Linked DNA regions of Homo sapiens: regions 1, 2 and 4 are each linked to region 3. The links come from fine-mapping of genetic effects on gene expression. A gene starts in region 3. Each other region holds a variant in brackets. All regions are shown on one strand. Distances are between the middles of the regions. Region 1 overlaps LGALS9B (galectin 9B). Region 2 has its middle 13 kb from the start of NATD1. Region 3 holds the start of DHRS7B (dehydrogenase/reductase 7B). Region 4 overlaps DHRS7B (dehydrogenase/reductase 7B).

Region 1 (7,113 bases), 660 kb before region 3:
TTCAGCAGGCAGCCACCCGTGGTCCCTCACTAAACCAGGAGAGAGCTGCACACCTCTGTGCCACCCAGTCAGGATGCCTCGGCAGGGGTCAGCCAGGCCTGCGTGAGGGTCGGGGGCCCTCCCAGCCACTGACAAGCCACGTGAGCTCCTCTCTGTTCCCAGACAGCCCACCTTGGGAGGGAGGAAGGGGTGGGAAACAGCCCTGATACAATGTTAGTATTTTGAATGGACTTAGTAGTTTCCAGAAAAGGCCTTGAAACCGAAAGAGACCAAATTACTTCGGATGTCAATTTTCAGTATTTTCATGTCAGCAGAAGGAGAGCTTCAGAGTGGATGAAAGCAGTTATGGGAAACGGAGGAAGTTTGATTTTTGCAACTCTCAGTCACAGTGTGCAAGGTTCAGCCCAGAACATAATCATCCAACTCTGACCATCCCACTCCTTCCTTAGACCTTCAGCTCCCAGGGCCCCATTCATCCTGGAGTCCAGGTTAATGGCATCCCTGGGTGCAGGTTGTGCCTGTGGAGTGCTGTCCTGTGGCATGGGTTAAGGATGCATTGGGTCTCCCCTGCGCCAGGCACGTGAGCTTGGATGTTGTTGTTTGAACTAACCGAGGCTCACAGGCACAGTGGCTTTACTAAGGGACGAGGCTGGAGTGAAACGTTTCCATCCATATACACACACCTGGTTCCACTGGAGCTGAGAACGGCCCCATTGACAGTGATCTGAAATCCGTCCTGGAGACCCCCTTGGATAGTCCCAGAAAAGGGGACGGCCTGCAGGGAGAAGACATGGGGCCTCAGTCAGGTGGCCGGCCTCCTGTTTGCTCCCCTTCGGGGCTAGTCAGTGGCTGGCCTGGGTGTGACCGCACCATGCGAGGGGCTAGGGTGCAGCTGTGACCAGGACAGAAGGAGTCTCAGCCCCACGGGTCTTAGGGTCCTGTGTGGAGGCAGACACAAATCCAATTAGTTACTCAGACAGTCTAAGCTTGTGATAAGGAGAATCCTGGCCCTGAGAGGACGCGACAGGGAGCTGAGCTTGTGTGAGAGTCTGAGAGGCAGCGGAGGCCACACCAGGAACGCTCCAGGCGGAAGGCCTTCCTTCCAGGCAGGGAAGTAGCAGGCAGACGCCCTGGGCTGGTAAGGAACTAGGTAGCAATGGGGCTGCTGGACCCCATGCCAAGCTCCCAGCAAAGTGCCCAGCGCCCTGGCTGGGGACTCAGGAGGCCCAAGGGAACAAAGGGACCCATCAAGGGTCTGCAGGTTCCACCGAGAGGGTCACCAGAGAGTGTCAAGAAGAAGGCATGCACCTCTCCCCACCACCACCATATAACAATGGCCACCATGACCTTTGCCCTCCTGACCACCTTCAGCAGAGCCTCTTCCCAGATGCCCTCCGCAGCCCCGAGCCCCAGCGTAGTTTCCCCACCCATCCCAGGCCCCGTGGGCAAGCACTTTGTCAAATTCTCTCTTCCGCGCCTCTTTAAAGGAGCTATGGGCCATGGTGAGGCATGCATCGTTTTGGAGTCAGGCGGACTCCAGGTCTGAATCCTAACTCTGCTGCTCCTGACCTGAGTGGCCTTGGGAAGCCTATTTCACCTCTCTTTGCCTCAGTTTCCTCATCTGTAAAATAGGAAGGTGTTTCTCCTACTGCATATGATTGATGATTTTGTGAGAAAAAGCCTGTGGTAGAAGAGACTGGCACAGAGGAGACGCTTCACCACTGTCACCCACCCCCACCTTGGTCTCTCTGAGCAAAATTCACAAACTGGTACTTCCAATCTTCAAAGTTTATTCCGAAATGCCTCATATCCGGTGTGGTTCTATAACCTGCATTAAAGCACAGTTCTATCTCATGGCTGATTTTCACATTCTTCAAGTTTTTAATGTCTTCTCTAATATCTCCTTTAGGTCAATTTCCTACACAAATTAAATGCCTAAAGAAGCCAGGCAGGTGATGTGTATGAGTCAGATGGCCAGGTAGGGAGTGGTGGGGACTGTGGCAAAGTAGACGTCACACGCCTCATCTAAAAAGTCAACATCTTCTCAGCACTAACCAATGATTACCATCTGGGCTTAGTATTGGCAGAACTTCCAAATTTTTAAGATGAGACAGAAACCTGAATTTTTTTTTTTTTTTTTTTTTGTAAAACTTTCTAATTTCTTGGGGGAAATCTTTTGTCAAAAAGGATTATGTAAAAGTTCCTGACTGGGCACAGTGGCTCACATCTATAATCCCAGCATTTTGGGAGGCTGAGGTAAAACAATCACTTGAGCCCAGGAGTTTTAGGCCAGCCTGGGCAACATAGTGGGACCCCCATCTCTACAAAAAATAAAAAAATTGGCCAGATGTGGTGGTGCACACCTTTAACCCCAGTTACTTGGGAGGCTGAGGTGGGAGGATCACTTGAGCCTGGGAGGTCGAGGCTGTAGTGAGCCACGATTGCACCACTGCACTCCAGCCTGGGCAACAAAGCGAGACCCTGTCTCAAATGAAACTCCCCAAATTCCCACATTGTAGAGATACACAATGAAATATTTACAATGGAATGAAATCTCTGGATTTGCTTCCGCATATCTGAAGGTGGGAAGAGAAGCAAGCGAGGGAGGGTACAGGATGAAGCAAGATAGGCCTGAGTTGATCATTGTTGGAGCAGAGTGATGGGTGTGTGTTGTTGATGGTACAATTCTCTCTGCATGTTTGAATTTCCTATAATAACAAGTTAAAGTAAACACTGTGTAGGCCAAACAGAAAACACCCACTAGCCAAATTCAGCCTACTGGTCACTGCTTTCTGGTCTGTATTGTTGAGTTATGTGACCACACAGCACCCTGGGAAACCCATCCTAGCTCAGTGTACACACCTGGCACCGTGAAAGCCCCAGGCAATCTGAGATCTGATCCAGATAGTCTCTGCTCCCCATGGATTTGAGGGGGTTGTCTTTTCTTGCCCCTCAGGTCAGGTCTGAACTCTGCCATTAAATACTTTGGTGACCTCAAGCAAATCACAGCTTCTCTGTGTCTCTGACTTCTCTTTCTTGTCCCTGTCTACACCAGCGGTGTGGGGGAAGGAGAGTCAGCCTGATCCAGTTATGGGCCAGCATGGGCTAGGATTGGGAAGCCTGTTGTCCCTGAAACACGTCTGTGGAAGATTTTTCCCCTTGCCTGTTTGTGGCAGCCTGTGATTCCCTCCAGAGCCTTTCATTCTATCATGAGAGACAACGCTGAAAATACACACCCTCCTGGGAAGCATGCGGCCTCCACTCAAGCGTATTCACACCACAGCACCTAGAATTGAAGGCAGAGAGTGATGGACATGGGCTCGCAAGTCCACACAAGGCTTAACTAAGGAAGCCAGGAGGGAGAAAGACCAAGTACAGGTCATGGGGGCAGGACAGGGCAGGCTAATCTCCAAGGCAACAAGTTCCCCAAAAAAGTTCTGTGAGGTTTCAAAATGTCTTAAATGGCACCCCCAATTTCTGAAAAACAAGATTATTTTATTATTTATTTTATTTTATTTTATTTTGAGATGGGTTCTCACTCTGTTGCCCAGGCTGGAGTGCAGTGAGGAGTGTGATCATGGATCACTGCAGCCTCCACCTCCTGTGCTCAAGTAATCCTCCCACCTCAGCCTCCCGAGCAGCTGAGACCAAATAAGTGCAGGCCACCAAGCCATACCCCACTAATTTTCAAATTTTTTTGAAAAGACCAGGTCTCGATATGTTGCCAGGGCTGGTCTTGAACACCTGGGCTCAAGTGATCCTTCTGTCTTGGCCTCCCAAAGGGCCGGGATTTCAGACATGAACCACTATGCCTGTCCTGAAAAATGAGATTTTAAATTGAATATCATCCAACAAACAAGGTTATTCATTGCAGCATTATAACACAAAGGATTATAAAGCAAAGCATTGGAAGGAGCCTAAAAGTCTTCCAACAGGGAAAAGGTGAAATAAATTAGGGTATTTCCATATAATAGAATAAGTTCTGTGTAGCTTTCAAAAGAAAAGAAAAAGAAGACGGAAAAGAAAAAAGAAAAAGAGGAAAACTCTGAGCACCGATATGGAATAATGCCATTTGCATAAAAAGTGGGTAGGGGAAGGCTATGGACTTGCATTTATTTATTTATAGATAAAATATCTCTGGAAGGATTTACAAGAAACTTATAATACTGGTTATCAGTGGGCGACCCCCCAGAAACATCCACATTCGAATCCCCGGAAACTGTGAATATGTTGTAGAAGGGACTTTGCAGATGTGATTAAATGCATAATTTTGGCATGGGGAGATTGTCTTGGATTATAC[A/T]GGTGGTCCCAATGTAATCACAAAGGTCCTATAAAAGGGAGCAGGAGGATCAAAGTCAGAGGTAAGAGATGTGACAACAGAAGCAAGAAGCTGGTTTTGGGGGTTTTGTTTGTTTGTTTGTTGTGTTTTTTTTTTTTTTTTTTTTTTGAGACAGGATCTCATTCTGTCACCCAGGCTGGAGTGCAGTGGCATGATCTCAGCTCACTGCAGCCTCCACTTCCCCAGGCTCACGCGATCCTCCCACCTCAGCCTCCCAGGTAGCTGGGACTACAGGCATGCACCACCATGCCTGGCTAATTTTTGTCTATTCTTTGTAGAGACACAGTCTCAGTTTGTTGCCCAGGCTGGTCTCCAACTCCTGGGCTAAAGAGATCCTCCTGCCTCAGCTTCCCAAAGTGCTGGGATTACAGGCATGAGCCACTGCACCCAGACAAAGCTGCTGGTTTTAAAGATGGCAGGAGGGGTCATAAGCCAAGGCAGGCAGGCAGCCTCTAGAAGCTGGAAAAGCAAAAGAAACAGATTCTCCCCTGGAGCCTCCGGAAGGAAACAACCTTGCTCACACGATGATTTTAACATCTGCCCTCCAGAATCATTAAGAAAGCAAATTTGTTGTTTTAAGATTGGCCAGCCAAGGCTGCTGTGGAATTTAGATCCGTGTGTCCAGGAAACCCAGGAAAACAACTGGACCTACTTTTGCTCCGTAGGGTGCAGGAGGATGGATTTTTGTGTTGGATTTGTGGTCCCATGGGCCTGGGCTCGCCTCCCAGCTCTGTACACTAGCAATTCTGACACTGGCCAAGTCACTTGACCTGCCTGTGCCCCACTTCCCTCCTCTGAATGGCAGGGCAGTAACACCACCCGACAGTGTTCTGGAGAGGACTGGGTGCAATGCTGTGTGCTGAGTCCCTGGCTGGCAGCATTCTGGAGAGGACTGGGTGGAATGCCATGTGCTGAGTCCCTGGCTGGCAGCGTTCTGAGAGGACGGGGTGCGATGCCATGTGCTGAGCCTCTGGCCCATGTCGGCCTTGACAGTGCAGCTCTTTGCATGGAACAAATCAATCCCTCTGCTGAGTCAGAACTTGCTCTCTGTTCCTGGTTGTGCCCAGAGACCGGGGACTTTCCCTCTTCTTCCTACCTGGAAGTCAAAGCAGAGCTGAGCCCTGCGGACCAGAATGTGGGCAGCCTCATTCTGGACTCAGCATCACCAGAGGACACCAAGGCCTGGCCCCAGGAGTAGGGAGCTCAGCCTGGCTGGCCGAGACTGCCTGCCAGCTGGAGCCAGTACGTGGCCCTTAGCCAAAGTGCCCTGTTGCCTCAGAGGCTCCACGGTCCTGCTGGCCACCTTTCATGACACTTTGATTTTAGCCTTCTGACCTCCAACACTGTAAGCACAAATGTGTTGTTTTAAGTTGGCCAGCTAAGGCTGCTGTGGCATTTGGATCCATGTGTGTCCATGAGGGCTCTGGGGGTGACCGGGAACATTTATCCTCACAGCAACCCCGGCCACTTTTACAGATGAGGAAACTGAGGCACAGAAAAGTTCAGTCACTTGCCCAAAGCTACACAGCTGGTCGGCAACAGAGCTGGGATTTGAACCCCAGCACCCACGCTTCTAACCACCACACAGGCTTCCTCTCATGAGGAAGCTCGGAACGTCCTTATTCCTGGCTCTCGCAGTGCTTCCTGGGCCACACAGCAGGTGGTTCCAGCTTCCCCCCAGCCCTCCAAAGAGGCTGGGCTAGATGAGGCCAGACAAGAAGTGGGAGTGAGGTTTCCAAGCCAGGCCCTCATGGCACTCAGCCCTCCTCAGCAGGACAGTGAACCGCGTGACCTTCCCCCACTGTCGGCATGTGGAGAAAGCGTGGCTCCGACTGCCAGATGGGTCACCGAGTGAGGCTCAAGTGTCCCAACCCAGGGGAGCCCCCGTAGGGTAGAGGGGAGCTCTGGACACCTGTGGGGGCTGCACTGATCGTCTTTCTTGTCTGAGCTCCAAGGCCCCGCTTTAACTCTCTCAAACTCTCTGATGTGCATAGGAGGATTTTCCTTCTGAATCCAAAGATTAGAAAGTAAAAACCAGTTACCAGAATAATAATATGTCAGAACCTGGAAGAAGCTCTGGGATCCCCTCTCTGGCAGAAAACCAGAAACGGGGTGACATGCTCAAGGTGGCATACGCTGACTCTAAGGCTCGCCCAACACCGGCAGCCCGTTCCAGCTTCCCCCACTCCCTCTATGCAGGTTCTACCTTGGGGGCTTCCATAGGGTGGCTGAGGGGTCATTGGTGACAGCCAGGAGGAAACAGGCCTCCTTTCTCCATTCTTCCTCTCTGGAGTCTAGAAAGCAGAGCTGAGCTCTGCAGACCAGAACATAGGCAGCCTCATTCTGGACTCAGTATCACCAGAGGGCACCCAAGCCCGACCCTGGCCTCTGCTGAGGTGGCCCCTGGCAGCTTCCCTGCCCTCAGCACCCTGCCTCTGCCCACCCTCCCCATTCTGTCTCCCCACTCAGGAAGGGCCCATCAGCCCACCCACTCCAGCCCCTCGGGAAGCTCTTTGCCAAGGCAGGGTGAGATCCTGTGACAGGACCCAGCCCAGGACACAGTCACCCCTGAAGGCTCCTGGGCTCCTGGGGCTGCCACTCCCATCTGGGGGCATTTGGCAACTGGCCTTTGCCTCCCTGAACCTTGGATTTTCCGTGAATGAAGGGGACTCATAAACCTCACAGAGTTTCAGCAAGGCACCTGCAGCCCTCTGACCCCACACTGCAGGGACAGTCCCTGCCTCCGTCACCTCTGAGACTGTCCGTCTACAGAT
Region 2 (7,956 bases), 140 kb after region 3:
CAGATCGGTCTAGGATGAGACGCTGAGTCTGTCTTCAGAGCCTCTAGCTCTACTCCCCATCTGTGAACCAGAGGTAAGAAGTGTGAATTACTTCAACAAGTATCAAAGCGTCCTGGTGTTGGAGGCTGACACCTGAGCAGGCCTGGTTCCATCCTGGCCCTGCTGTGTGGCCTGAGGCCAGTCACAGTCCTTCTCTGGGCCTCATCTTCCCTTCACAGGGCTCCTGCAGCCCTGATTCTCTGTGCTGCTGAGCTGCCCGCCCCGGGAATCTTGGCTCTGCTGCTGGGGCAGAATAGTGTGAGCAAGGCATGTGGGACGCGTGCTGGTCACCAGCCCAAGCTTCTTCCTAGTGAGTCTACTCCCTTCCCTTGCCCAGACCCCAGTGCCCTGACACCTGCAGACAGAGCATTTGCTTTTTCTTTCCATACCTTTATTGTTTTTCTTTTCTTTCTTTCTTTTTTTTTTTTTTTGAGACAGAGTCTTGCTCTTGTCGCCCAGGTTGGAGTACAGTGGCACTGTCTCGGCTCACTGCAACCTCCGCCTCCCAGGTTCAAGCGATTCTCCTGCCTCAGCCTCCTGAGTAGCTGTGATCACAGGCACGTGCCACCACACCTGGCTAATGTTTGTATTTTTAGTAGAGATGGAGTTTCACCATGTTGGCCAGGATGGTTTCAAACTCCTGACCTCAAGTGATCCACCTGCCTCGGCCTCCCAAAGTGCTGGGATTACAGGCATGAGCCACCATGCCTGGCCTGCCTTTACTGTTTTTCTTTTCTGATTAGAAGCATGAGGAGTGCTCGTTTAAAATTTTCAGAACACACAGAAAAATATCAAGAAGATAAAAGTCATAAATCCACCACTGTTCAGTTTGGCCACATGCCCTCAGACATCTTCCTGATCCTGTAACCATCCATTCATGTACTCATTTACTCATTCATTCACTAATTGACTCATGCACTTGCTCACTCACACGGTGCTTATTGAGCAATTGAGGTATGTTCTGGATTCTGGGAACACAGCGTGAACAGACAGACAAAGCCCTGCACACATGGAGCTCTTTATGTGCAAATAGAACGTTTTCCAACAAGGCTGGGTGCGGTGGCTCATGCCTGAAATCCCAGCACTTTGGGAGGCCGAGGTAGGTGGATTGCTTGAGTCCAGGAGTTCAAGACTAGCCTGGGCATCATGGTGAAATCTCATCTCTACCAAAAATACAAAAACTAGCCAAGCATGGTGGTGTGCACCAGCTTCTTGGGAGGCTGAGGTGGGAAGATCGCTTTAGCCCGGGAGGCAGGGGTTGCAGTGAGCCCAGATCGCACCACTGTACTCCAGCCTGGGGGAACAGAGGGAGCCCCTATCTCAAAAAAAAAAAAAAAGTTTTCCAACAAAATTGTAATCAAATCAGATTATCTGTTTTATAGCTTGTTTTTTATTTTCAATTTAACAATATGCTGTGATCATTTTCCTTTGTTAATATATAGGAAACCACAGAATTATTCTATAAGAATATTTTTAGGCTGAGTGGGCTGGCTCACACCTGTAATCCCAGCACTTCCTGCTGTGGCAGGAGGATCGCTTGAGGCCAGGAGTTTGAGACCAGCCTGGGAAACATCTCTACAAAAAAAAAAAAAAAAAAAAAAAAAAAAAGAATATTTTATTTATTTATTTATTTATTTATTTATTTATTATTTTTTTATTTTGAGATGGAGTTTCGCTCTTGTTGCCCAGGCTGGAGTGCAATGGTGCAATCTCAGCTCACCGCAACCTCCGCCTCCCAGGTTCAAGCAATTCTCCTACCTCAGCCTCCTGAATAGATGGGATTACAGGCATGCACCAGCATGACGAGCTAATTTTGTATTTTTAGTAGAGATGGGGTTTCTCCATGTTGAGGCTGGTCTCGAACTCCTGACCTCAGGTGATCTGCCCACCTTGGCCTCCCAAAGTGCTGGGATTACAGGCGTGAGCCACCACGCCCGGCCCCAAAAAGAATATTTTAAAAGATAATTTTGATTAGGTAATATATTCATGTTTCAAAAACTAAAATGAAGTGTATGTGGGTACCAAGAAAAAATCTACCCACTGCCTTTGTCTGCCATCTGCCTTCTGCCCAGAGCTCCTCCACTTCACACAGGGAAGCATTTTTACTTGTTTCTCATGAATTCTTCCAGTGTTTTCCACACATAAATACAAGTGAATACAAATATATATTCTTCCCCCCCACTTTTAACCCACAAGTTGGCATATCACTTAGCAGTCTCTCCTGGAGACCCGTCTGTCTCTCCCTATAGCACAGCGGTCCACGGAGTGGAGGGACATGGCACTCACAGCTGAAAGATCCTAACCATTCTCCTGGATACAGCAGTCCTTTACCGATGGCTATCTGGGTAATTTCAAAATACAGCATCTTTGTCTCAGTTGTTGATTCTTTCATCTCAGGGATATGTTCATGATCTATCCAGTTCCCTCTTGTTGGGATTTTGATAATTTCCAGTGTTTCACTGCATTGCGATGGATGAGTGTGTTAGTACTTGTTTCCGCCCACCCACCTGATTGTCTTCTCAGGAAAATGAGACCCGAGGGCTCCTCCTAGGCCAGGTGCCATGCTAAGTGCTTCCTGGGAATTCTTTCATCCAGTCCTCACACCCACCCTCGGAAGCAGGAGTTGCACTCATGAAGGGACTGGGCTCTGAGGAGCCTGAGAACTTTCCAAAAGTCTCCTTGGTGGTAGCTCTTGGAATTTGGATCTGAACCCCAGTTGGGGTAAGTCTGGAGTCTGATCTCCTGAGCAGAGAACAAGTGGCTACAAAGTCAATGCATTGTGAAGCCACTGGCACTGATGGGCAGTTGCCTCCCCAGGATAAGGTGCCTCCCCCACCCTGAAGAGACCTGAGGCTCTTAACGATTCTCTGGAATTGGCTGAGCACGGTGGCTCATGCCTGTAATCCCAGCACTTTGGAGGCCGAGGTGGGCGGATCACCTGAGGTCAGGAGTTCGAGACCAGCCTGGCCAACATGGTGAAACCGCGTCTCTACTAAAAAATACAAAATTAGCCGGGCGTGGTGGTGGGCACCTGTAATTCCAGCTGCTAGGGAGGCTGAGGCAGGAGAATCGCTTGAACCCAGGAGGTGGAGGATGCAGTGAGCCGAGATGCGCCATTGCACTCCAGCCTGGGCCAAAAGAACAGAACTCCATCTCAAAAAAAAAAAAAAAAAAGATTATGTGGAATTAATTGAGGGTAAAAAATTCCATGGTGCAGGACCCAGGCAGGTTACAGGATTGCAAGAAATGGCTGGGTGTCAGACAGAGGGAGCAGTGTGGAGTGTGGCAAAGTGGGACCACCTGGTCTGTCCCAGGGGCAGCTTCTGCTCCTTCCAGCAAGTTGTTCCACAAGGGAGCCCTGGGCTAAGTCTTCTGCTTTTCAACAGGAGCTGGAAATCGAATAAAAATGTGAGACTTCTTGATGTTTAAATGGCAGTTAATTTTGGCTGAGTGTGATGGCTCATGCCTATAATCCCAGCACTTTGGGGGGGCAAGGTGGGCGGATAACTTGAGCTCAGGAGTTTGAGACCAGCCTGGGCAACATAGTGAGACCCCGCCTCTACAAAAAATACAAAAATTAGCTGGGATGGGAAGCCAAGGTAAGAAGATCATTTGAGTTTGGGTGGTTGAGGATGCAGTGAGCAGATTAAGTCTTTGCACTCCAGCCTGGGCAACAGAGTGAGACGCTGTTTCAAAAATAAATAGGCTGGGCGAGGTGGCTCACACCTGTAATCCCAGCACTTTGGGAACCCGAGGCAGAGGGGATCACTTGAGGCCAGGAGTTTGAGACCAACCTGGCCAAACCATGGCAAAACCCCGTCTCTTCTAAAAGTACAAAAAATAGCTGGGCATGATGGCATATGCCTGTAGTCCCAGCTATTCAGGGGGCTGAGGCACAAGAATCACTTAAACCCGGGAGGCGTAGGTTGCAGTAAGCAGAGATGGCACCACTCCAATCCAGCCTGGGTGACAGAGCAAGACTCTGTCTTAAAAAATAAATAAATAAATAATAAGTAAACAAACAAATAAATAAATGCCAACTGATTTTAAAACACAGGTAGGTGTGTCTGCTGCTAACTTAGATGGTCGGGAGAGTGAGAGAGAGAGAGAGGCAGAGAGACAGGGAGGGAGAGGGGTACTCTGGCAAATGGGAAACCCTTGCTAGGTCCAGGCAAAGGCCATGTACAGATTCACCCACGATTCTGGCTGTTTGTTTGGAGGTGTTAATTTTTTCAAAATAAGAAAATTGCTCAGGCTGGGTGCGGTGGCTTATGCCTGTAATCCCAGCACTTTGGGAGGCTGAGGCGGGTGGATCACAAGGTCAGGAGTTCGAGACCGGCTTGGCCAATATGGTGAAACTTCATCTCTACTAAAAATGCAAAAATTAGTTGGGCATGGTGGCAGGCGCCTGTAGTCCCTGCTACTTGGGAGGCTGAGGCAGGAGAATCACTTGAACCCGGGAGGGGAAGGTTGCAGTGAGCCAAGATCGCTCCACTGCGCTCCAGTCTGGGCGACAGAGCAAGACTCTCTCTGAAGGGA[A/G]AAAAAAAAAAAAAAGAGCAAATTGCTCACTCTGAAAGAGATAAAACTAAATGTAACATCTGAATCTTGGCTAGCTCTTAGTTTGAAACAAAAAGTCCAGCCATAAAAGACATTTTGGGGACAACTGGGTAACTTGAATGTGGACTGTGTGTTAGATATCTGTGGAATTACAGTGTTTTTTGCAGTGAGGTAAGCGTATCATGGTCTTGTAGAACGGCCGCCTTCTCAGGGAGTGCATGCTGATGGACTAGGGGCAAAAGGTCACAAAGTCAAAAACTTACTTTCTTTTTTTTGTTTAAATGATTTTTAGATAAAGATCGAGGAGTCAGAGGAGGCCTTGCTATGTTGCCCAGGCTGGTTTCGAACTTCTGGCCTCAAGTGATCCTCCTGCCTTGGCCTCCTAAAGCATTGGGATTACATACGTGAACCACTGCTTCTGGCCAGTAACTTACTTTCAAATGATTCAGGGCCAGGTGTGGTACCTCACACCTGTAATCCCAGCACTTTGGGAGGCTGAGGCGGGCCGATCACGAGGTCAGGAGATTGAGACCATCCTGGCTAACACAGTGAAATCCCGTCTCTACTAAAAATACAAAAAATTAGCTGGGCATGGTGGCGGACGCCTGTAGTCCCAGCTACTGGGGAGACTGAGGCAGGAGAATAGCGTGAACTTGGGAGGCGGCGCTTGCAGTGAGCCGAGATCATGCCACTGCACTCCAGCCTGGGCGACAGAGCGAGACCCCATCTCAAAAAAAAAAAGAAAAAAAAAGATTCCGAAAACAGCACATAGCTATGTGTAGAGAGGGGAGTGTGCACGTGGGCAGAGCTGTCAGCACCGGGCAGGTCGCACCAGATGGCAGCTGTGGATTCTGCTTTTGACTTCCTGTGTGCTTAAATTTTACATAATAAAAATTCAGAGGAAAGGGGGGAAAAAGTGACCACAGGGGTGAAACAAAACATATGGGTGCTAGAAATGGCCCCTGGTTTGTGACATGTCATTCAGCCCAATCCTCCCTCAATGCAAGATGGGAAAACTGAGGCCCAGAGGTGGAGGGAGGGTCTCTTCTCAGAGCGGACTTCCCTCCCTAATTCTGTTTTCCTCACACCGCATGCAAGCAGCTGTTTGGGCAGGAGAGGCTGAGGTGACACTTCCTGTCCCTTTGTCTTTTCTCTTCCTGCCAGAGCTCTGTGAGGGTGGTTCTGTTACAGCCCATTTCACAGAGGTGGAAGCTGAGGGCCTGAGAGCAGAAGTTACTTGCCTGAGTCACACATTGAGTTGGGGTGGGAAACTGGTCCCTAGGCCCCCACCTTCCTCCGATCCCTAGATCAAGGGCAATGGCTTTGGATCAGCAGGCCCGGCCTGGCCCCCAGTTTTGCTGTGTGACCTTGGGTGATTCATCTGACCTCTCTGTGCTGCTCCAGGGGTGAGGAGTTAATGAGGTGACCCATGAGAAGGCTCCTGCCCTGCTGCCCTGCACACGATCAATTCTGTCACATATTCCTCTGTCCCTGCAGTCCCTGGAATCTCAGAATCTCCAGCAATTGCCATGGCCCCCGCCCTGCCTTGCTGCTATTTCCCTCCAGCCTCTGTATAGGTTTCTGCGTGTCTCTTCCTGTCAGGGTTTGCCACTAGCCAGGCTTTGGCCCTGAGGGATGGCATAAACTAGTGGAATTTCAGGCAGCAAGAGGCAGAGCGACTGGGGAGATATATGGGACATTCTCACCCCTTGTCTGGAATGTCCTTTTTCCTACACTCCAATTGGCAAACTCCTATTCATCTTCTGAAGCCCAGGTTAAATATCGTCACTCTGAGGAGCTTTCCCCCATCCTCAGCCCAGGTTGGGTCAGTCACCACCCAGTGGCTCCCGCAGTCCCTCTGAGTGCCACCATTATGTGGGTGTGGGTTTTCTTGCTCCATCGCCTGAGAGGGCCTGGGTTTTGCTCATCCCCCTACCCATTTTAAAGAATGGGAAACTGAGACCAGCCTGTAATCATACAGCAAATGCAGGGCAGAGTCCTGAGGGCGAGAGTGCAGGCAAATCCCGGTCTCACCACAGACTCTCTCTCTCCTTGACCTTGGGCCCATCATGTCACCCCCTGAGCCTTAGTTTTCTTGTGTGTAACATGGCAGTAATGGCCCCAAATGCTCACCGTTTTTTCCCTTCATTGAAAGGACTTCTCTGCTCCTCCCTCAGCTTTAATGAAGGATAATTACATACAATAAAATGCAGCCATTTAAGCGCATGGTTTGATGATGTTTGACACATGTATACGGTTGTGTAACCACCACTACAATCATCATACACAACATTTCCTTCACTCCCAAGTTTCCTTCGGGCCCCTTTGCAGTTGATCCCCTCCCCACCCCAGTCCCTTGCCACTACTGATGGCTCTGTGCCACTGTGGTTTTGCTTTTTCCAGAACGTCCTGTGAATGGAATCGTATTGTAGGTAGCCTTTTGAATCTGGCTTTTTTTTTCCGGCGGAATGCATCTGAGCTCCATCTGCACTGTGGCATGTTTTGGGAGTGCATTCCTTTCCTGTCACCGAGTAGTATTGCATTGATGGATATATACCATGTTTTGTTTATCCCTTTCCAAGTTCATAGACAGCTGAGTTCTTGCTAGGTTTTATCTATTATGGAAAAAGCTGTTACTAACCTTTGTGTTCAGGTTTGTGTGTGTGTGTAAACACAGTTATTTCTCTTGGAAGTGAAATAGCTGAGTCCTAAGTAGGTGTATTTAACTTTATAAGAAACTGCCAAACTGTTTTCCAAAGTGATCCTACCATTTCACATTCCCACAGCAATGTATGAGAGTTCCAGTTTCTGCACATCCTCACCAATACTTGCAATTATCTTTTTTTTTTTGAGACAGAGTCTCACTCTGTCACCCAGGCTGGAGTGCAATGGCGCGATCTCGGCTCACTGCAACCTCTGCCTCCTGGGTTCAAGCGATTCTCCTGCCTCAGCCTGCTGAGTAGCTGGGATTACAGGTGCGCACCCCCACGCCCGGCTAATTTTTGCGTTTTTAGTAGAGACGGGGTTTCACCATGTTGGTCAGGCTGGTCTCGAACTCCTGATCTCGTGATCCACCCAAAGTGCTGGGATTACAGGCGTGAGCCACCGTGCCCGGCCTGGAATTATCTTTTTTTAAATTTTTTTAAATTCTTTGTTTATTTATTTTTGAGAGAGGGTCTTGCTCTGTCACTCAGGCTGGAGGGTAGTGGCATGATTATGGCTCACTGCAGCCTTGAAATCCCAGGCTCAAGTGATCCTCCTGCCTCAGCCTCCCGAACAGCTGGGACCACATGTTGGTGCCATCACACCCAGCTAATTTTTTTTTTTTTGAGACGAAATCTTGCTCTGTCGCCCAGGCTG
Region 3 (7,956 bases):
GGTTCTACGGGGCTACTGTGTGGAGATCCACCTGCCTTGTGGACACCCAAGACCATGCTTCTGTCTGTAAGCTCCCTCTAATAATTATCCTATATGGACAAACTGGATTTGTCTGCTTCCTACGTTTTCTCAGCTCCTTGGGCATTTGGGGGTGGCTTTGGGGGTGGCTTTGATGGAACACTCTCTCTGACATCACCCCAGGGAAGAGGATGAGTGCTTTCTTACAATTAAGTGGGGTAGAAGTCCAGGTTCTCCATATGGTTTCCACTGATACCATGCTGGGGGAGAGTCTCCTCACCTCTCAGTGGGAATGAAAATCCAGCCCTCGGCCGGGCGCGGTGGCTCACGCCTATAATCCCAGCACTTCAGGAGGCCGAGGTGGGTGGATCACAGGCTCAAGAGATCAAGACCATCCTGGCCAATATGGTGAAACCCCGTCTCTACTAAAAATACAAAAATTAGCCAGGCGTGGTGGCGTGAGCCTGTAATCCCAGCTACTCAGGAGGCTGAGGCAGGAGAATTGCTTGAACCCAGGAGGCAGAGGTTGCAGTGAGCCGAGATTGTGCCACTGCACTCCAGCTTGGGTGAGAGAACCAGACTCCGTCTCAAAAAAAAAAGAAAAAATAAAAAATAAAAATAAAAAGAAAATCCAGCCCTCCACTTGGCCTTCTCTGACACCATGCCAGGGAGAGGGGACAGTGGTGCCTCTTTACAGCCTAGCATGCGTGGCAGTCTAGGCTTTCCAAGAGGCAAGCATGGGGATGGGGCTTTTTCTGTGGTTTGGGCTGGATTAGAGCCATTATTGTGTAAACGTTTTCTGTCCTCTGAGGCTGCCCATTTCCTGGTCCTGTGGCTAGAGAGAGAAGGCTTTTCTTAGGGCATTGTCTTTGCCTGTCGGCATTTCCAGGTTGCTTGCTTCCTAGCACCCAGTCTGGGATATATAAGGCAACACCCACCATGTTGTTCCTTGCGTCCCAGGGTGGCTAGCTGGTTTGCCTTCTCTCCAACTTTTGGAGTCTTAGATTGTTTTATATATAATGCCCACAATTTTTAGTTGTACTTAGTAAAAGGAATAGGGAAAATTGTGTCTAGTTCATCTTCCTGGAAACAAAAATCTTCCATCTTGTTTTCATAGAAGGCCATGGAACTGTGCTAACCACTGGAATCTATTTGTTTTGTTTGTTTGTTTGAGATGGAGTCTCGCTGTGTTGCCCAGGCTGGAGTGCAGTGGCATGATCTCTGCTCACTGCAACCTCCACCTCCTGGTTTCAAGTGATTCTCCTTCCTCAGCCTCCTGAGTAGCTGGGACTACAGGTAAACGACACCATGCCTGGCTGATTTTTTTGTATTTTTAGTAGATGGGGTTTCCCCATGTTGGCCAGGCTGATCTCAAACTCCCGACCTCAGGTGATCCGCCTGCCTCAGCCTTCCAAAATGCTGGATTACAGGTGTGAGCCACTGCACCCGGCCCACTGGAATCCTTTTTGTATAATATCCTGGCTGCGAAGTTAGAGTTTTTACACTTGCATTTGGCAGATGCAATTCAAATTGGTTACCAAAACTTTGAAATATATTGAGTTGCTTCTAAAACAAATTCCATGCAGGATTGAAGAGTGGGTAGGCTAAGAGGGTAGCAGGCCTGGGAAATGAACCCCAGGAAACTGACTTAGTCATGCAATAAAGACTCAGGTGTTACCAGTGGAGAGTGTCCAGGTTCTTGGCGTTTTGAACAAACAATTGGACAAAACGCACAAACAAAGCAAGGAAAGAATGATGCAACAAAAGCAGAGATTTATTGAAAACAAAAGCACACTCCACAGGTTGGGAGCCTGCCTAGCAGGTGGCTCAAGAGCCCGGTTACAGAATTTTCTGGAGTTTAAATACCCTCTAGAGGGTTCCCGTTGGTTACTTGGTGTACACTCTATGTAAAAGAAGTAGTGGCCTGTGATCAGCCTGATTGGTTGCAAGAGGGGACCAATCAGAGGTACCTTCAATTTTTCATCTGCCAGGCAGAAAAGCGGGGCAGGTTGCAAAGGGACTAGCTTCTGTTCCTTTTGTTACCTGGGCATGGAAAGTTCGGGTTTTCCTTTTGATTTAGTTCTAGGAAGTCAGCGTGAATTGGCCTTAGGTTCCCTGTCTCCAGACCCTATTTTTCTGCCTTACGGTTCATATTGGGTTTGCTACAAGGATATTCAAACTTTGTGAATTGGCAAGCAGGAATCTAGAGTTTCCAGAACAATGGAGAGGGGCCAGAAAGGTATAAAAACTTTTGTGAAAACGTCAAAAATAAATATTTAGTTAAAAATAAAATTTCCCATTTTCAGATTTTGTGAATATCTGTAAGAATTTCCAGGATATATTAATTCGCTAAAGTTAATAAAAGCAAGAAACAGAAGGACGTTTCAGAATGCTATTGTTTGTGTAACAAGGGGGTGCTGAATACATACATAATTGCTTGGTTATGAATAAACTGGCTCTGGAAGGACACACATAGCTAATAGCATCGTTACCTAGGGGGAGGTGAAGTGGGTCCTGGAGAACAGAAAGGGAGATTTTCCACCTTACACACATTTGCCATCTTATGATTTTGAACGATAAGAGTCCCCCCGCCCCTTCCTTCCTCTGCCCTGCCCCTTCCTTCCTCTGCCCTTTACTCTCTCAATATCCTCTTTTCATGCTTTTTTTTTTTTTTTAAATCACTTCGGGTCCTTTAAAAAATTTACTTGCAAGAAGTACGTACATATTCTGAATAAAATTCATTTTCAGATATATGTATTACAAATATCTTGTCTGTTCTATTGTCTTTCCCTTTTCTCAATGGGGTCTTTTCGGTGTCTTATAGTTACAGACACCCAATTTATCAGCTTTTTCCTTTAGGACTGGCACTTTTTGTGTTCTGCTAACACGTTATTTTCCTCTCTTATGGTCATAATATTCTGCGATTTTATTGTCTAGAGTTGTATTGTTCACATTCAGGTCTACCATCCGTCTAGAATTATTTTACTTGAGATAGGAGTCAAGGTTCATTTCCCCCCAATCGACCTTCAATTGACCTAGCACTATATATTGAAAAAACTCTTCTTATTGCATTACAGTGGCTACTTGTAGGAGGAAAAAGTGACTACATAGCTGCAGGTCTGTTTCTGGTCTCTCTCTTTTTCATTCATTGTTTTTACCTTTGTGCCAGTTATCACACTGTTCTGATTACTGTGGCATTATAATCATCTTGATAACTGTATCGTGAATTCTCCAACTGTGTTCTTCGCCGGAAGTCCACGGAACACCAACCACGACCTTCGGAATTTCCCTCCGGAAGATGAAGGCACTGTAGTTATGCGGGTGGACCCTATCAGATCTCGGGTCCATCGGGTCCTGTGTACACCTTGAGGGACGCCCACCCAACGCGCATGCGCAGCCTCAATGCTGGGATTGGACGGAGCCTCGCCGGCTGCGTACACGTCACTTCCGAGGCGGGAGGATGAAGTTGATTGACTATGGTCTCTCCGGCTACCAGGTAGGGGCTGGGGAAGAAGGAACCTCCGAGATGAGGCGATAGGGTCTGGCCTTGAGCTGAGGCGACGCCCCGGCTTGGGTGAGGGGAAGCGGTGTAGTGGTCGAGCTAAGGCCGCGGGCCCTGGGCGGCTTCCGGATCCCCGCGACGCCGAACTCTGAAGGAAGACTCAGCCCAGGCGCTGGGACCAGAGCCCTGGCTCCGGCGAGTGCGTGGCGGGGAAACCCGCCTGTCGCCGAGGTGTCTTGAGTCCAGTTTCCGCTGCTGGGAATGGGTGTCGCGCCGGGCGCTGTGTGTGAAAGGCCTCGCGCCCACAGGGCTCCTGGCTTCAACCTGTTTATTCCCACATTTCTGCGCGACGTAGGGGAGGCTCCGCAGCGTCTGCGAGTGGCAGGACCGAGGGTTGAGCGCTGGGGGCCAGTGGCACCTTAGCCAGTGACGGCGAGTTAGGACTAGCAAAGGAAGTCCGGTTTTTCAGAAGGCAGGAGGAGGGTGCTGACTCGAGCGTCCACGGGAATGGCTGGTTGAGATATCTTGCTCTTCCAATACTTACTCTGCGGCTTCCTGGCTGTGCGGCTTTGGGCAAATGTTTTAAACTCTGAGTGTTTCTTCAGCTGTAACTTTGGGAGTAACAAGCCCACTCATAAGGTTGTTGTGAAGCGTAAATGAGACTGCGCGTGCAAGGTGCTCAGCTGGTGTCTGGCACATAGTAGGTATTCAACAAATGGTAGCCACATAATGCTCTTTTTTTCAGTTTCCAAACCTTCCATGTAGTGATTGGAGAATCGTGAAGTTACTTTTGAAGTAACGTTTGGGTTTCACACACTCATACATTTAGTAAGCAGAATTCTTGCTTACACTGTTGCCGATTGCAACGGTGTGTTTGCATAATGGAAGCTATGTTTGTGCCTTTGCCAAGGGTGTGGAATATGCCTTCCCTACCATGTACATGTCCCCTTTTCTCCATTCCTTAATAATAGTTGATATTTTTTGAGTGTTTGCTATGTTACAGGCACTGTACTAATCCCTTTACTGAATTATTCAATCCTGTAATAACCCTAATCATAGGAACTATAATTTTTATTTATGGAGGGAGAAATGGGCTTAGAGATGTTAAGAAGTTTATCCAAAGGCATAGAGCTATTAGCCAGGCAAGGTAGCACACGCCTGTAGTCCCAGCTATTTGTTGGGGCTGAGGCAAGTGGATTGCTTGAACCTGGGAGACAGGCTGCAGTGAGCCGAGATCACGCCATTGCATTCAAGTCTGGGTGACAAAGTGAGACCCTGTCTTGGCTGGGCGCAGTGGCTCACACATGTAATCCCAGCACTTTAGGAGGCTGAGGCGGGCGGATCACCTGAGGTCAGGAGTTCGAGACCAGCCTGGCCAACGTGGTGAAACCCCGTCTCTACTAAAAAATACAAAAATTGGCTGGGCGCGGTGGCTCACGCCTGTATTTCCAGCACTTTGGGAGGCCAAGGCGGGCGGATCACGAGGTCAGGACCTCGAGACCATCCTGGCTAACACGGTGAAACCCCGTCTCTACTAAAAAAATTCAAAAAAATTGGCTGGGCTTGGTGGCGGGCGTCTGTAGTCCCAGCTACTAGGGAGGCTGAGGCAGGAGAATGGCGTGCTCCGGATGGCGGAGCTTGCAGTGAGCCGAGATCCCGCCGCTGCACTCCAGCCTGGGCGACATAGTGAGACTCTGTCTCAAAACAAACAAACAAACAAAAATTAGCCGGGCGTGGTGGTGGGCGCCTGTAATCCCAGCTACTCGGGAGGCTTTGGCAGGAGAATCGCTTGAACCTGGGAGGCAGAGGTTGCAGTGAGCCGAGATGCCGCCACTGCATTCCAGCCTGGGCGACAAGAGCGAGGAGACTCCGTCTTAAAAAAAAAAAAAAAAAAAAAGTGACACCCTGTCTCAAACAACAACAACAACAACAACAAACAACAACAAAGGCATAGAGCTAGTAAAGGCCGATCCAATGCCATGTCACTCCAGAACCTAGCGCTTAGCTACAAATTTCATTCATTCCTTCAGATACTTATTGAACGTTTACAGTGTACCAGCATTGTGCTGGGTGTTGTGGATACAATGATGATCAAAACAGATAAAGCCCCTGTCTTTAAATTGCTTATAAATCTAGCAAGGGAGATAGTAAATATATAAATAAAACTAAATATTAATTACGATTGTGATGCATGCTGTGGAGGACAGTAGAGGGTGCTGTGAGGATACATAATGGAGTCACCGGCATGCGGAGGGGGAAATGAGGAGAGACAGGGAAGGCTTTCCCAAGAAAATAATATTTAGCTGAGACTTAAAGGACTGAGTTGGAGTTAAATTGGACAAAGAGCTAACAGGAGGAGGGAAGGGCATGTGTGAGGTCTTGAGACTAGGAGGAGCTTGTATCTTGTTACTTAAAGACCCCTGTGAGGCTGTAGGTGGTGGCTCACACCTATAATCCGAGCGCTTTGGGAGGCTGAGGTGGGAGGATCATGTGAGGCCAGGAGTTTGAGACTAGCCTGGGCAACATAGGGAGACCCCATTTCTACAAAAAATAAAAAATTATCTAGGCGTGCTGGTGTGTACCTGTTGTCCCAGTTACTCAGAAGGCTGAGTCAGGAGGATCACTTGAGCCCAGGAGTTTGCGGCTACAGTAAACTGTGATAATACTACGGCACTCCAGCCTGGGCAGCAGAGTAAGACCCTGACTCAAAAAAAAAAAAAAAAAAAAGAAAAAGAAAAAAATAAGCATTAAACCAGACTGGAATGTATTATGGATAATATGCTAATGCAGTTTCTTTCAGAAAAGAAATCCCACCACTTATTTGTATGCAGCTGAGCAGATACAACCCATTATGTAGTCTCAAGATTAATGGTAATTTGTCCTCTTATAAGAAGACTTGACAGCACCATTTGCTGTACATGTTTTCATAGTTCATTCTAAATTCACCTGGTAATTGGGTTGGTCATCTGTGCTACCTAGTTACTTTTTTCCAAAGGAAAACATGAAACAGCTCTATGATAAAACAAGTAGTTGAGGTGCCTAGGCTAAACTTCCACAGTGATAGGGATAGGGCTGGGGCATTGTCTTCCTGGATATTTCCATTTAAAATAGGGGGTTTGGCTGAGCACGGTGGCTCACGCCTGTAATCCCAGTACTTTGGGAGGCTGAGGAGGGCAGATCACCTGAGGTCAGGAGTTCGAGACCAGCCTGGCCAACATGGCGAACCCCGTCTCTATTAAAAATACAAAAATGTGTGGTGGCGTGTGCCTGTAATCCCAGCTACTCAGGAGGCTGAGGCAGGAGAATCGCTTGAACTGGGAAGCAGAGGTTGCAATGAGTCGAGATTGTGTCACTGTACTCCAGCCTGGGCTACAGAGTGAGACTCCACCTCAAAAAATAAATAAATAAATAAATAAATAAACTTACGTATGTATGTACGTACGTTTGTAAAGGGGGGGTTCCAGGCCCTTCAGAAAAACAGTCCTGGGTTTTACTGTATTTACTGGGTTTAAACAAGCTAAGCTAGGGGTAGTTTATTTAGCCTTTAAAAAGATTTGCATACATATCAAAGGGACAGAGGAATAATTTATAAATACTGGGTTTTTCAAAGAAATGCTGTGAGGAAAAGGAAGGAGAGAAGATCTCTTTCCCTTTGGAAACAGTGAAAATTCAGTTTTAAAATTTTTACTATATGTTTGCATGACAACTAAAAAAAAAATTTACTTACAGTACAGTAAAATGTTGGACTAGAGCAACATCCATAATGTTGGATGGTGTAGGAATTATTCATTCCCACCCCATTATACACATAAGAAACCTTTCTTTGGTAGCCAATGTTATTTTAATGCAAAAATGAACTCTCTATTCTGGAAGGCCATAAGCATGAGGGTGAAAATTGGGATTGAATGGTGTGTAAATTCAGTTTGAAAGCTTCTTGCCACCCACCCAGATAGGAAATACAACAAATTCCTTAGGATTTTACCTGAGCTCTCCCTCCTATCTTCTAAAGTTCCCAGTAACATGAGGCTTGGCCATTTAAACTGCTTAGTGGAGGGAGAGGTCTGTGATGGCCACTGAATTTGCTACTGGAGAAGAGTCTTGATCCAGACCTCAAGAGAGGGTTCTTGGATCTTGTGTAAGAAATAATTTGAGGCCAATCCATAGAGAAAAGTGAAAGCAAGTTTATTAGAAAAGTAAAGAAACAAGAGAATGGCTACTCCATAGGCAAAGCAGCCCTGAGGGCTGCTGGCTGGCCACTTTTATGGTCATTTCCTGATTATATGCTAAAGAAGGGGTGGATTATTCATGAATTTTCTAGGAAAGGGGTGGGTAATTCCCGGAACTGAGAGTTCCTCCCCTTCGTAGACTATATAGGGTAACTTCTTGACATTGCCATGGCATTTGTAAACTGTTATGGTGCTGGTAGGAGTGTCTTT
Region 4 (7,956 bases), 31 kb after region 3:
TGATATAGTGTTATTTGAAAGTGGACTTGGATTCATTGGAAATGTATACTGTAAACTCTAGGGCAACCACTAAAAAAAGTTTTTTTAAAAAAAGAAGCATAGTTGATAAGCTATGAAGGGAGAGAAAATAGAATCATATAAAATGCTCAGTTAACCACAGTGGGCAGAAGAACTGTGGAAGACAAAAAGAGGAGCAAAGAACAAGGGTAACAAATGAAAAAAAATTAACGAATATGGTAGCTATTAATCCAGCTATGTCAATAATCACTTTAAATGTCAGTGGTTTTGTCAGTTACATCATTTAAAAGGCAGAGATTGTGAGAGTTTATCAAAGAATAAGACCCAAATATATGTTGTCTACCAGAAACCAACTTTAAGTATAAAGACACATATAGATTAAACATAAAGAGATGAAAAAAGATCCACCATACTAACACTAATTAAAGAAAGTGGGAGTAGCTATATTTCTACACAGAGTAGACTACAGAGCAAGGAAAGTTATCAGGGTTAAAGAGCATTACATTATGACCGCAGATCAATCCTCCAATAAGACAATAATCTTTAATGTATATACACATAATAGAGCATCAAAATATGTGAGGCAAAAACTGATGGAACTGCAGGGAGAAAGAGATGAATCCACTATTGTATTTGGAGACTTCAATGCTCCTTTATCAGAAAGACAGATTTGGCATGCAGAAAATTAGTAAGAACATAGTTCAACTCAACAGCGGTCAATTGGATATAGTTAACATGTATAAACTACTTTGTCCAACAACAGCAGATTATACATTCTTCCCAAGTGAATGAAACATTCACTTAGACCACATTCTAGGCCACAAAACACACCTTAATAAATATAAAGGAACAGAAATACATTGTCTGCTTCCAGACCACGATGGAATTGAACTAGAAATCAGTAACAGAAAGATAACTGGAAATCCCCCAAATAGTTAGTGATTAAACAACATACTTGTGAATAACACATGGGTTAAAGAAGAAATCTCAAGAGAAAACTGAAAATATTTTGAAGTAAAAGAAAATGAAAACCTTACCAAATTTGTAGAATGCAGCAAAAGCAGTGCTTAGAGGGAAATTTATAGCATTGAATGTATGTATTAGAAAAGAAGAAAGATCTAAAATCAACAATCTAAGTTTATACTTTAGGCAACTAGAAAAAGAAGAGAAAATTAAATCCAAAGTAAGCAGAAGAAAAATAATAAAAATTAGAGCAGAAACCAATGAAATTGAGAATAGGAAATCAGTACAGAAAACCAACAAAACTAAAAGCTGGTTCTTTGAAAAGATAATAAATAAAATCAATAAGCCTCTAGTCCAGCTAAGAAAGTTAGCTAAAAAACTAAGGCACAAATGACTAATATCAGAAATGAAAGCAAGGACATCACCACAGAGCCCATGGACATCAAAAGAATAATAAATGTAGCCGGGCGTGGGGGTTCACGCCTGTAATCCTAGCACTTTGGGAGGCAGAGGCAGGTGGATTACCTAAGATCAGGAGATTGAGACCAGCCTGGCCAACATGGTGAAACCACATCTCTACAAAAATACAAAAGTTAGCCAGGCATGGTGTTGTGCACCTGTAATCCCAGCTACTTGGGAGGCTGAGGCAGGAGAATCGCTTGAACCTGGGAGGTAGAGGTTGCATTGAGCCAATATTGCACCACTGCACTCTATCCTGGGTAACAGAGTGAGACTCCATCTCAAAAAATAATTATAATAAAAAAAATAAGCCGGGCGTGGTGGCTCATGCCTGTAATCCCAGCACTTTAGGAGGCCAAGGCAGGTGGATCACCTGAGGTCAGGAGTTCGAGACTAGCCTGGCCAACATGGTGAAACCCTGTCTCTACTGAAAATACAAAAATTAGTTGGACGTGGTGGCATGCACCTGTCATCCCAGCTATTCGGGGGGCTGAGGCAGGAGAATCGCTTGAACCTGGGAGGTGGAGGTTGCAGTGAACTGAGATCATCCCATTGCACCAGCTAGGGTGACAAAAACAAAATTCTGTCTCAAAAAAAAAAAAAAAGAATGCTATGAATAACTCTGTGCCCATTTCTTGATAACCTAGATGAAATAGACCAATTCCATGAAAAGACAATCTGCCAAAACTCACGCAATAAGAAATAGACACTCTGAATGGGCCTGTATCTATTAGAGAAATGGAATCAATAATAATAACTTTCCCAACAGAAAGCACCAAGCCCAGATAGATTCACTGATGAATTCTACCAAATAATTAAGAAAGAATTATACCAATTCTCTACAATCTCTCCCAGGAGGTAGAAGCAGAGAGAATACTTTCTAACTCAACCTATGAGACTTCCATTACCCTAATACCAAAACCAAAGATATTACAAGAAAATAAAAATATGTACCAATGTCTCTCATGAGCATAGATGCAAATATCCTCAAAAAATATTAGCAAATTGAATGCAATAATGTATGAAAATGACCAAGACCATGACCAAGTGGGATTTATCCAAGATGTGTAAGTCTGGTTCAATATTCAAATCAGGCTAGGCACAGTGCTCATGCTTGTAATCCCAGCACGTTGGGAGGGCTGAGGTGAGAGAATTGCGTGAGGCCAGGAATTCAAGACCAGCTTGGGCAACAGAGCAAGACCTCATCTCTACAAATAATAAAATCAGCCAGGTGTGGTAGTGTACACCTGTGGTCTCAGCTACTTAGGAGGCTAAGGTGGGAGAACTGCTTGAGCCTGGGCAGTTGAGGGTGCAGTGAGTTGTGATCATACCACTGCACTCCAGTGTGGGCAAGAAAGTGAGACCCTGTCTCAAAACAAAACAAAACTAATGTAATCTGGCTGGAGGTGGTGGCTCATTCCTGTAGTCCCAGTACTTTGGGAGGCAAAATGGTGAAACCCCATCTCTACAAAAATGACCCAGGTGTGGTGGCACACTACTGTAGTGCCAGCTACTCAGGAGGCTGAGGCAGAAAAATTACTTAAGCCTGGGAGGTAAGGGCTGCAATGAGCTGAGATTGCACCACTGCACCCCAGCTTGGTTGACAGAGTGAGACCCTGTCTGAAAAAAAAAAATAATAATAATCCATCACATCAACAAACTAAAGAGGAAAAAAAGTCACATGATCATATCAGTAGCTGCAGAGAAAGTATTTGACAATATCTATCTCTGATTCATGATTAAAACTCTCAGCAAATCGGAGTAGAGGGGAACTCCCTCAACTTGATAAATACTTAAAAAAAACTACAGCCATCATACTTAATGGTGAAGAACTCAGCTTGCCCACTAAGATCAAGAACAAGGCAAGGATGTTCCCTCTCACCACTGCTTTAAAAAAAATTTTTCCCACCCAAATCTCATATTGAATCATTACTGTTTTTTAACATCATACTGGAAGTCCTATATAGTGCAGTAAGACAAGAAAATGAAATAAAAATTGTAGAGATTGGGAAGGAAGAAATGAAAATGTATTTGTTCACAGATGGCAATCATTTATGTAAAAACTCTGAAAGAATAAGAAACTAAGCAAAGTTGCAGGATACAAGGTTAATGTATAAACATGAATCACTTTTCTGTATACCAGCCGTGAACAAGTAGAATTTGAAATTAAAAAGACATTAAGTATGAACAGGTTTTTTAATGAGGCAGACTATAAAACTGTGATGAAATGTATCAACTAAATAGATATTCCATGTTCACAGATAGAACAACTCAATAATGTCAAGATATAATTTCTTCCTAGCTTATCTATGGAGTCAATGCAATCCCAATCCAAATCCCAGCAAGTCATTTTATGGATATTGACAAACTGATTATAAAGTTTATGTGGAAAGGCAAAAGACCAAGAATAACCAACTCAATATTGTGGGAGAAACAAGTTAGAGGACTGACGCTACCTGACTCCAAGACTTAGTATAAAGCTACATTAATCAGGACAGTGATATTGGTGAAACAACAAGTAGATCAATGGAACAGAATAGAGAGCCCAGAAATAGACTCACATAAATAGAGCCAACTGATGTTTGACAATGGAGAAAAGATAGTCTTTTCAGCAGATTGAAACACTATCTGCATGCAAAAAAAAAAAAAAAATCTAAACACAGACTTCACAACTTTCTCAAAAGTTAACTCAAAATGGATCATAGACCTAAATGTAAAATGCAAAACCATGAAACTGCTAGAAGATAACATAAGAGAAAATTTGATGACCTCGGGTATGGTGGTGACTTTTGGGCATGATCCATGAAAGAAATAATTGATAAACTGGACTTCATTAAAATTAAAAACTTCTAGTCTGAGAAAGACTGTGTCAAGAGAATGAGAAGACAAACCACAGACTAGTAGAAAATATTTTCTTTTTCTTTCTTTCTTTTTTTTTTTTTTAAAGACGGAGTCTTGCTCTGTCGCCCAGGCTAGAGTGCAGTGGCGTGATCTTGGCTCATTGCAACCTCC[G/A]CCTCCCGGGTTCAAGTGATTCTCCTGCCTCAGCCTCCTGAGTATCTGGGATTACAGGAGTGCACCACCACGCCCGGCTAATTTTTTTTTTTTTTGTATTTTTAGTAGAGACGGGGTTTCACTGTGTTGGTCAGGATGGTCTCAAGCTCCTGACCTCATGATCCTGCTGCCTTGGCCTCCCAAAATGTTGGGATTACAGGCGTGAGCCACCGCACCCGGCCAATATTTTCGAAAGACACATTTTAAAGGACTGTTATCAGTTGGAATGGTGGCTGATGTCTATAATCCCAGCACTTTGGGAGGCCAAGATGAGAGGATCACTGAGCTCAGGAGTTTGAGACCAGCCTGGGCAAGATGGCAAGACCCTGTCTCTGCAAAAATTTTTTTAAAGTTAGCTAGTCACAGTGGTGTGTGCCTATAGTCCTAGCTACTTGGGAAGCTGAGGCAGGAGAATCCCTTGAGACCAGGAAGTTGAGGTGGCAGTGAGCCACTGCATTCCAGCCTGGGTCACAAAGCAAGACCCTGTCTCAAAAAAAAAAAAAAAAAAAAAAGGACTATTGTCTAAATTATACAAAGAACTGTTAAAACTCATCAATGAAAAATAGGGCCAGGCATGGTAGTTCATGCCTGTAATCTCAGCACTTTGGGAGGCTGACGTGGTGGATCATTTGAGGTCAGGAGTTCAAGACCAGCCTGGCCAACATGGTGAAACCCTGTCTCTACTAAAAATACAAAAATTAGGCCTGGCGTGGTGGCTCACGCCTGTATTCCCAGCATTTTGGGAGGCCGAGGTGGGTAGATCACAATGTCATGAGTTCGAGACCAGCTGGGCCAACATGGTGAAACCCCGTCTCTACTAAAAAATATACAAAAATTAGCCGGGCATGGTGGTGTGGGCCTGTAATCCCAGCTACTCGGAAGGCTGAGGCAGGAGAATCGCTTGAACCCAGGAGGCGGAGGTTGCAGTGATCCAAGATCATGCCAGTGCACTCTAGCCTGGGTGACAAAGTTAGACTCTGTCTCAAAAATAAAAAAATTTAAAAAATTAAAAATGAACAACACAACAAAAAAAAATGGACAAAAGATCTGAAGAGACCTGAGTGAAGAAAATATACAAGTGGCAAATAAGCATATGAAAAGATGCTCTGCATCATATTTCATAAGGGAAATGCAAATTAAAATGACAGTGAGATACCACCACTAAATAGGATGGCCAAAATCCAGAACATTGACATCACCAAATGCTAGCAAGGAAGTGGAGCAATAGAAACTCTTATTCATTCCTAGTGGGAATGCAAAATGCTATACCCACTTTGGAAGACAGTTGGTAGTTTCTTACAAAATGAAATGTACTCTTAACATACACCACAGTAATCACACTCCTTGATATTTACCCAGATAAACTGAAAACCTATATCTACTCAAAAACCTGCACACAGATGTTTATAGCAGCTTTATTCATAATTGCCGAAACTTCGAAGCCACCAAGATGTCTTTGAATGTATAAACTCTGGTACATCCAGACAACTGAATATTATTCAGTACTAAAAAAAAATGAGCTATGAAGCTATGAAAAGACATGGAGGAAACTGAAATGTATATTACTAAGTGAAAGTAGTCAATCCGGAAAGGCTATGTACCATATGTTTCCAAGTATATGACATTCTGGAAAAGGCAAAACTGTGGAGATAGTTAAAGGTTCATGGGTTGGGGAGGAGGGAGAGATGAATAGGTGGAGCACAGAGGATTTTTAGGGCAGTGAAACTATTCTGTATGAAACTACAATGATAGATATATGTCAGTATACATTTGTCCAAACCAAGAGAATGCATAGCACTGAGAGTGGGCACTAATGTAAACTTTGCCCTCTGGGTAACAATGATGTGACAGCATAGGCGCATGGGTTTTAACAGTGTAACACCGGTGAGGGATGTGGATAATGGGGGAGGCTGTACTTGTGTGGACACAGGGGTGTATGGGAACTCTACTTTCCGCTCAGTTTTCCTGTGTACCTAAAGTTTGTCTTAGAAATTTTATTAATAAAAAAATGGCAGCTATGAGGCAGTAGAACAGTATGTTCAAAGAATATACATGAAATTCTGTATCTAAAACTATCCTTCAAAATTGAAGGTAAGATAAAGACATTCCCATATAAACAAAGACTGAGATAATTGGTAGATTGTAGATTTGTCCTTCAAGAAATGCTGTATTAAAGGAAGTCCTTTAGGCTAAAAGGAAATGACTCCAGACATTATCTTGAATCCCCAGGAAGAGGGCCTTGTGAGAGAAATAAGAAGAGAAGACATGTATCTGTGAAGAAAAGTGGGAAATCTAACAGTGGGTGAAATAGATTGATTACTTACTGTATGACTGTCCGAAAGAGACACAGCCGTGTCCTCAGGAAATATTTGCTAGGACGCTTGGTAAAAGAAAGTGATAGGGCACCTGCTAGGCTATTTTTAAATGAAATCATAGATGTTGGGAGTGGCACAGCCTTCTCAGCTCATGACACTTTGCTTCCCAGTCAGTTCTTCCCACATGTGCCCTTCCTCCTCTGTGTTTGCTGGCATTAAAAGTCAGTGTACTAAACGTTTTCAGGAGAGTTGTTATATAAACTTTCAAAACCTCCCTTAGAATAAAGAGCATTTTCTAGTTAAATTTCACAAAAATGTTTTTCACACAGCTCTAAAAATAACTTGGAATTCAGGGTGAGCCATCATCCTAGATAAATTACAGTAAGGCACATTTGTCTGAGAGAAAGGGAGCCAACAGAGACATGATGATTTATCTAACTTTGTGAGGAAACCAAGACAGGAATTTGTTAGAATTCAAAGTATTATGATTTCAACCATGAGACTACATGAAATTAAGCAACATTTAATGTTTAATCCCTAGCGAATGACATACTTTTGCTCTGGGATGTGATTTGTTTGCCGTAATTCGTTTTAGTGATATTTTGCTGAGATAAAGCTGCAGGAATGTTTGCTTTTCTTATGGCAACTGGCAAATAGTTAAAATGGACTGTGAGAACATTTGTTCTTCAGGATTCTGTTTAATACTGAGTGTAGGCAAATAAAACAACACATCTGGGCTCTGTTTTTTTCTGTAATCTGATGGTATTGGATTAGATTATTTCCATGATACAATCTTATTCAACAAACATTTATGAAGTTCTCACCACATAGATGGTGTGGGAGTCAGAATAAAAGGCCAGACCCTCAGAGAACTGCTGTCTTGGGAGGCACGTGGCAGTGAAGGGAAATCATTGTGATGTTTTGTGAGATGCTATGGAGGCTACACTGAAAAGGAAGTGATTAACCCTGTCCAGATATGGAGGGCAGGGTTGCTGGGTGGCTTGAAAGGTTTCAGGGAGATGGTGCCCAAGCAGGACTTGAAGATTGGATAGGAGTTATCAAAGAGGACAGCAGGCAAGAACGAACTTCTAGAGACCCAATTTTTCTTCTGCTTTCTACTTATCAAAAAGTATTTAGCATTGAGAGTGTT

What was found. PIP is the estimated chance that this variant, and not a neighbour inherited with it, causes the effect.
Region 1: its variant is the best candidate, but not a certain one, in a credible set for the expression of DHRS7B in whole blood (INTERVAL, PIP 0.60).
Region 2: its variant is the best candidate, but not a certain one, in a credible set for the expression of DHRS7B in whole blood (INTERVAL, PIP 0.64).
Region 4: its variant is the best candidate, but not a certain one, in a credible set for the expression of DHRS7B in whole blood (INTERVAL, PIP 0.61).

What each region holds. Positions count from the first base shown.
Region 1 is chr17:20,459,669-20,466,781 of GRCh38, forward strand. It overlaps LGALS9B (galectin 9B), which reads right to left. Exons shown (of 11, transcript NM_001367292.2): 2 at 684-775. Among named protein-coding and RNA genes, the nearest start is that of LGALS9B, 4.3 kb to the right of the region's middle. The variant A/T (reference allele first, on the strand shown) is at 4,301.
Region 2 is chr17:21,262,597-21,270,552 of GRCh38, forward strand. No RefSeq gene overlaps it. Among named protein-coding and RNA genes, the nearest start is that of NATD1, 13 kb to the left of the region's middle. RefSeq lists enhancers at 171-740, 5,943-5,992. The variant A/G (reference allele first, on the strand shown) is at 4,579.
Region 3 is chr17:21,123,478-21,131,433 of GRCh38, forward strand. It overlaps DHRS7B (dehydrogenase/reductase 7B), which reads left to right and starts at 3,487. Exons shown (of 7, transcript NM_015510.5): 1 at 3,487-3,514. The coding sequence starts at 3,495. RefSeq lists an enhancer at 3,149-3,808.
Region 4 is chr17:21,154,882-21,162,837 of GRCh38, forward strand. The region is part of intron 1 of DHRS7B (dehydrogenase/reductase 7B); the gene reads left to right. Among named protein-coding and RNA genes, the nearest start is that of DHRS7B, 32 kb to the left of the region's middle. The variant G/A (reference allele first, on the strand shown) is at 4,453.